Homo sapiens: one gene and its partner. The protein of the gene in region 1 purifies or fractionates together with the protein of each later gene. This does not show direct contact. Each region holds a gene or a part of one and is shown in the gene's direction. Other genes may lie near its edges.

Region 1 (3,855 bases):
TGATATACATACATGGTATATAACGATCAAATTAGGATATTTAATGTACCCATCATCTCATGCATTTATCATTTCTTTGGAATAAAAACATTCAAAAGCCTCTCTTCTAGCTTTTTTGTAATATATTATAACTGACCATTAACCATCATCACCAATAGAACAGAATTTATTCCTCCTGTCAAATTATAACTTTATACCCATTGACCAACTTCTCCCTATCCTCCTCTTCCCTCTCCCCTCCCCAGTCTCTGATAACCACAGTTCTATTCTCTGCTTCTATAGTATCAACTTTGTATTTTTTTAGATTCAAAATATGAGTGAAATCATGCAGTATCAGTCTCTCTGTGCCTGGATAATTTCATTAAATATGATATCCTCCAGGTCTTTTTATATTGCTGCAAATCACAGGATTTCATTATTTTTTATGGCTGAATACTATTCCATTGTGCATATATTCCACATTTTATTTATCTATTCATCTGCTGGGGGACACTTAGATTGCTTCTATATCTTGGCTATTGTGAACAGGGCTGCAATAAACTTGAGAGTGCAGATATCTCTTTAACATAGCGACTTTATTTCCTTTGAATATCCACCCAGCAGTGAAATTGATAGATAATATGGTAGCTCTATTTTTATTTTATTGAGAAACTTCCATGCTGTTTCTTGTGGTGGCTGTACTAATTTACAATGCCACCAGCAATGTAAGGGTTCCTTCCTCTCCACAACTTAACCAGCACTTGTTTTCTTCTGACTTTTTGATAACAGTCATTCTAACTGGAGTGAGGTTATACTTCATTGGCGTTTTAATTGTATTTCCCCAATAATTAGTGATATTGACCATTTTTTTCATGTACCTGTTGTCCATTTTTATGTCTTCTTTAGAGAAATGTCTGTTAAAGTCTTTTGCCCATTTTTTAATCAGCTTGTTTGGTTTTTTCCTGTTAAGCTCTTTATATATTCTGGATGTTAACACCTTGTCAGACATAAACTTTGCAAATATTTTCTCCCATTCTATAAGTTGTCTTTTTACTCTGTTAATTGTTTCCTTTGCTGTGCAAATTCTTTTCAGCTTGATGTAATCCCATTTGTCTAATATTTGCTTTTGTTGCCTGTACTTTTGTATTTTAAAAGGTCCAGTCTTTTAGAAGAACAATTTGACATTATATGTTATTACTTAAAATGTTTGTATACTTCATCCCAGAAATTCCATGTCTAAGAATTTATCCTAAGAAATGCATGTGTAAATATACAAAAATATATCTACAGAATTACTTAATGCAGCATCACTTGACATTTAAGAAACAACAACATCCCAAACATCCATTAATGGGAAAATGCTTAAATGTATTATAGCATATCTATACAATGGAATACTTTGTCATTGTTAAGAATAATCAGGTAAGTGGGGCATGGTGGCTCTCGCCTGTAATCCCAGCACTTTGGGAGGCCGAGGCGGGCAGATCACCTGAGGTTGGGAGTTCAAGACCAGCCTGATGGAGAAACCCTGTCTCTACTGAAAATACAAAATTAGCCGGGTATGGTCGTGCATGCCTGTAATCCCAGCTATTCAGGAGGCTGAGGCAGGAGAATCGCTTCAACCCGGATGGCGGAGGTTGTGCTGAGCCAAGATCGCGCCATTGCACTCCAGCCTGGGCAACAAGAGTGAAACTCTGACTCAAAATAAAATAAAATAAAATCAGGTAATATATTTCCAAAATTATCAAGTTGTAAATGTAAAAGTTATACTTTATTGTGTGTAAATTATGCTTTAATAAAGATGAGTTTTAAAAGTTAGTGATGTAGATTTTTAAGTAATACCACAGAAAGATGCCCATAATATATAGCTAAGGGGAAAAAGCAGGTTGTAGACCAGTATGTTATTGTGATCCCATGCACGTGTGTGATTTTAATGTATTTATTTATGTGTCTATGAGTGTACTTATACATAGAAAAGATCTAGAAAGTGTCACCAAATACTCAACAGAAGTAATTTCTGAAAAAATAAAGAAAATGGTAAAACTTTTTATTTTTACTTAGATAATTCTGTAAAGTTTGATTTTATTAAATGAATAGCTGGGTTTTTCATTTTTAAAAAAATTTCAGTAGTTTTGGGGACCAGGTGGTGTTTGGTTACATGAGTAACTTCTTTAGTAGTAATTTCCGAGATTTTGGTGCACTCGTTGCCAGAGCAGTGTACACTGAACCCAGTGTGTAGTACTTTATCCATCACCCCACTCTCACTCTTCCACTGAATCCCCAGAATCTATTATATTATGCTTAGGCCTTTGCGTCCTCATAGCTTAGCTCCCACTGATAAGTGAGAACATACAATGTTTGGTTTTCCATTCCTGAGTTACTTAGAATAATGGTCTCCAACTCCATCTAGGTTGCTGTGAATGCCATTATTTTGTTCCTTTTTATGGCTGAGTAGTATTCCATAGTGTACACACACACACACACACACATGCGTATGTATCACATTTTCTTTATCCACCCCTTAATTGATGGGCATTTGGGCTGGTTCCATAGTTTTGCAATCATGAGTTGTGCTGCTATAAACACGTTTGTGCAAGTGTCTTTTTCATATAATGACTTCTTTTCCTCTGGGTAGATACCCAGTAGTGGGATTGCTGGATGAAATGGTAGTTCTACTTTTAGTTCTTTAAGGAATCTCCATACTGTTTTCATAGTGGTTGTAATAGTTTACATTCCCACCAGCAGTGTAAAACTGTTCCCTTTACACCACATTCATGCCAACATCTATTATTTTTTGTTTTTTTAATTATGACCATTCTTGCAGGAGTAAGGTGGTATCGCATTGTGGTTTTGATTTGAATTTCCTTGATAGTGATGAGCACGTTTACATGTTTGCTGGCAATTTGTGTATCTTCTTTTGAAAATATTCTATTCATGTCCTTTGCCCACTTTTTGATGTGATTGTTTTTTCCTGATGATTTGTTTGAGTACTTTGTTGATTCTGGATACTGGTCCCATGTCAGATGCATAGTCTGTGAATATTTTCTCCCACTCTGTGGGTTGTCTGTTTACTCTGCTGATTATTTCTTTTGCTGTGCAGAAGCTTTTAAATTTAATTCAGACCCATCTATTTATTATTGTTTTTGTTGCATTTGCTTTGGGTTCTTGGTCATGAACTCTGCCTAAGCCAACCAATGTCTAGAAGAGTTTTTTAAAGTATATTCCAGGGTTTATATGGTTTTAGGTCTCAGATTTATGTCTTTGATCCATCTTGAGTTGATTTTTGTGTAAGGTGAGAGATGAGGATCCAGTTTCATTCTTCTACATGTGGCTTGTCAATGATGCCAGCACCATTTGTTGCATAGGGTGTTCTTTCCTCACTTTACATTTTTGTTTCCTTTATCAAAGATCAGTTGGCTGTAAGTATTTGGCTTTATTTCTGTGTTCTCTCCTTCCATTGGTCTACCTGTCTGTTTTTATACCAGTACCATGCTGTTCTGGTAACTATAGCCTTGTAGTATCGTTCAAAGTCAGGTAATGTGATGCCTCCAGATTTGTTCTTTTTGCTTAGTCTTGCTTTGGCTATGTAGGCTCTTTTTTTTGTTCCATATGAATATTAGGATTGTTTTTTCTAGTTCTGTGAAGAATTATGGTGGTATTTTGATGGGAATTGCATTGAAGTTATAGATTGCTTTTGGTAGATGGCCATTTTCACAATATTGATTCTACCCATCCATGAGAATGGGATGTGTTTCCATTTGATTGTGTCATCTGCGATTTCTTACACCAGTGTTTTGTAGTTTTTCTTATAGATATCTTTCATTTACTTGTGAAGGTGTATTTCTAAGTATTTTATTTTTGTAGGTGTCATAAACA
Region 2 (3,500 bases), on another chromosome or scaffold:
ATTTTTATTAGTGATACCCCCTTTCCAAGCAGGCAGCAAAGCTTAGAAGCTTGACATTCTTTTCATTCTCCCTCATCCCATAGCCTTCAAACACACCATGCATATGTATGCCTGTGTAACTGCTTTATCTCTTATCCTGTCTGGAAAGACCTGAGAATTATTCTCCAATGATCTAAGCTTCTCCTTTAGGGTACTGCTTAAATACCACCACATCCTGGAATCTTTTTGTGACAAGTCTAGCTCATCTTGATCTTTCTCCGTAGCCATGACTGTCTTTATTACACACTTTGACATTTAATTTTATTTCTGGTTATGATACACTCCTGAGAGCTTCCTATTGTAAAAGATTAGGTGTTGCCTTTATAACTAAATTGTAGATTATCTTTTTTTTTTGAGACGGAGTCTCGCTCTGTTGCCAAGCTGGAGTGTAGTGGTGTGATCTTGGCCCACTGCAACCTCCAACTCCCTGGTTCAAGCAATACTCCTGCCTCAGCCTCCCAAGTATCTGGGATTACAGGCACAATGCCAATACGCCCAGCTAATTTTTGTATTTTTAGTAGAGACGGGGTTTCACCATGTTGGCCAGACTGGTCTCGATCTCTTGACCTTGTGATCAGCCTGACTCGGCCTCCCAAAGTGCTGGGATTATAGGCATGAGCCACCGCGCCTGGCCTGTAGATTATCTTTTTTAAAGACAGAGAGTCTTCCATATACTTCTTTTAAAACTTCAGTAGTATCTAGCACCATGCTAGGCACAAAGCAGAAAATTAGTAAATACTTTTTGAATAGGATTAAATAGAATGAGTCATGTATCTTAGCAAGAGGAATAAATACAATACCACAAACGTTCACTACCAGATGGCCCCAAAAAGAAGAAAAGTACTTCTTGTCTAGATTATATTTTGTAGTTAACAAAAGTAACATATAGGAGATATTTCTGAATATTTTGTTTTGCAACCACAAATTTAATAACTGTTAGGATTATTGTCAAAATACTAGTTGAATCTCTTATGGAACTAGAAATGTCATGGGTTAGCACCAATCTCAAAGAATATTTCTGGACATTTTTATATCATGAAGAGATTTTTGGCTTTCCTGGCACTATAGACAGTCTTCTGGACCTCTGGTGATCAGCCCTCCTGGCCCTGTGTGGTCTGTAGTGTATCCTGGGAATAGACTCCTCACATCCTGTTCACACCTGGGAGACAAATCTCAGCCTCCTATCTTCACACCACTTCTCCTGAATCACAGGCTGGTGTCTTCTCATCTGCCTTGCTCCACTCCTTTCTGATATCTGCTCAGAGGACCCTTTAGATAATCATCATGGACAGTCACACATGGAGAGTAAGGATTCAGAATGATTCTTCTTTACTCAGCTATCCTGTGACTGTCTCCAATCTCTTTAAAATGACATTTGTGTGACATCCTAGAGAAGAAACAATGAAATTGAATGCCAGCAGTGTCCTGGTGTTTATAGGTGGAATACACATATTATGTCATATAAATAGTTGAAAAAACTTGAAGTTGATTCGTTATAGAACTTGCCCCCAAATCAAATAGCTAACAATCTATACACTGTAGAGCCAGATCTGACACCAGAAGCTATTTTGCTTCCATTTGGCCATGTGGGCTGCCTATTGGTTCTTTTTTAAAACAAAATAGCTGGCCAGATGCAGTGGCTCACGTCTGTAATCCCAACACTTTGGAAAGCTGAGGTAGGTGGATCGCTTGAGCTCAGGAGTTTGAGACCAGCCTGGCCAACATGGTGAAACCCTATCTCTGCTAAAAATACAAAAAAAAAAAAAAAAAAATTAGTTGGGCATGATGGCACACAGCTGTTGTCTCAGCTACTCGGGAGTCTGAGGCGGCAGAATCACCCAAGCTAAGGGAGATTGCCTACACTCCAGCGTAGGCAATCTGAGTGAGACCCTGTTTCACATACATACATACATACATACATAAAACAAAATAGCTAAGTTTAATTGAATACTTTTCTGACAGACACTGTCTGTGGTAAATTGTTTGCTGGCATTTATTTCATTCAATCCTTATGAATTAGGAAGTATTATTAGTCCTGTATTACTGATGAGAAAACTGAGGTCTAAAAAGGTTAATTAATTTGCCCAAATACAAAACAGACAGTAATTGATGGAATTAGAATTCAAACATAGGTCTACCTCACACCAGAGCCTGAGCCTTCAACCACCATGCTCTGACATCTTTTTAACATTGTGCTATTCATTTTGTTCTATCCAATTAAATACCAATACCTGACACCCAGAAAAGTTTTTGCTTTAACATCTAAGAAATTATTATTTAAATCTGCCACATCTCCTTTGCAGAACAACAAGAATTAATAAAGTTTTTTAAAAGTTTCAATTCAGTGGAGCAATTAACATAAAATGGTTTTATTTTGCCCCAGTCATTGTTTTAAATCATTCTCCACCAGCTCTCCCTCTTGTTTCTCTTAGTGCCATTTCGGTAAGAGCCCATAACTTTCAGTTCACTCATTCTTTTAATATTCTTTTAATTAAATACCTAACATATGCTAGGCATTATTCTGAGTGCTGAGAATACATCAGTGAACAACAATTAAACATCTGTGCAGTTCAAAATGTTATATCCAATTCAAATGTCATGTCCTCTCCCTGCAGTAGGAGAGGCCTGCAGTAGCAGTTAGAGAAAACCCATCTGTTCTTTTACTCTTTCTCTGAAGCTAGCACTTTGAGGAATTTGGGGGGAAATGTTTGGCTCGACTCTGAGAAACCTCCTCCCTCTTTTTGTTAAAGACTACTTCTTCAAATACGTTGGAGAAAAGAAGGAAGGGCATGGAAAAGGGCAAACATCTCTTTTATTAACTCGATTATTAACTCCACTAATTCTCTCTGGCAGGGTCCAAATCTGGCCCTCTGATGTAGGATGTCTGGCTTCAGCCTAGCTTCCTTACACTTCTTCAGGTCCCCAGGGATGCAGAGGCCTCCTCTGCTATGGCCGCTTGACCTTGGAAACTCATGTACCCATACCAGATCCACTGATGGGAATGTATACAGCTTACAGCCACCCTGTCTGTCTGGCTCTCCCTTTCCCATTCTCTTCTCTGCTTAAGTACACATACCTATAACTGCTCACGCTGAGGAGGGGAAAAGAATGCCCCCCAGTCTTTCCTTGAGGACACCATAAGCCTTTAAGAAGGAGTAGCATGCACCAAGAAGAGGGGAGGAAAAAGCCACTACATTACCCAGTAGGCCAAACCATGGTTCCAGCAAATTTCCCTGCCTCTCACTAGCTCAGCCTTCTGGAAGGGGGTGGCTGTGGTTTGTGGGGTTGGCAGGGCTGATTCTACTTTCTGAGGTAGATGGCAAGCCCCACTTGTTTGGTGACTTCCTGATAGTGTGGAATAGTTAACGTATCTTTGTCCTGAAGTTTGGGACCCTGATGACCAATTCTAGGGCAAACATCCTGTTACAAAGGCAAGAAATTAATGAGTTAAATGATGAGTT

What was found. Proteins that work in one complex are often made in the same cells at the same time.
Region 2: the proteins of FCRL5 (region 1) and ME1 purify together in Homo sapiens (affinity purification with mass spectrometry; one large-scale study listed by BioGRID and IntAct). This does not show direct contact.

The regions. Positions count from the first base shown.
Region 1 is NC_000001.11:157,528,209-157,532,063, reverse strand, and holds part of FCRL5 (Fc receptor-like protein 5 isoform 1 precursor), read left to right. Parts: exon of another isoform or gene 1-100; intron 101-3,855. UniProt on the Homo sapiens protein: Plays an important role in B-cell response to antigen that acts both as a negative or positive coreceptor.
Region 2 is NC_000006.12:83,218,052-83,221,551, reverse strand, and holds part of ME1 (NADP-dependent malic enzyme), read left to right. Parts: intron 1-3,500. UniProt on the Homo sapiens protein: Catalyzes the oxidative decarboxylation of (S)-malate in the presence of NADP(+) and divalent metal ions, and decarboxylation of oxaloacetate.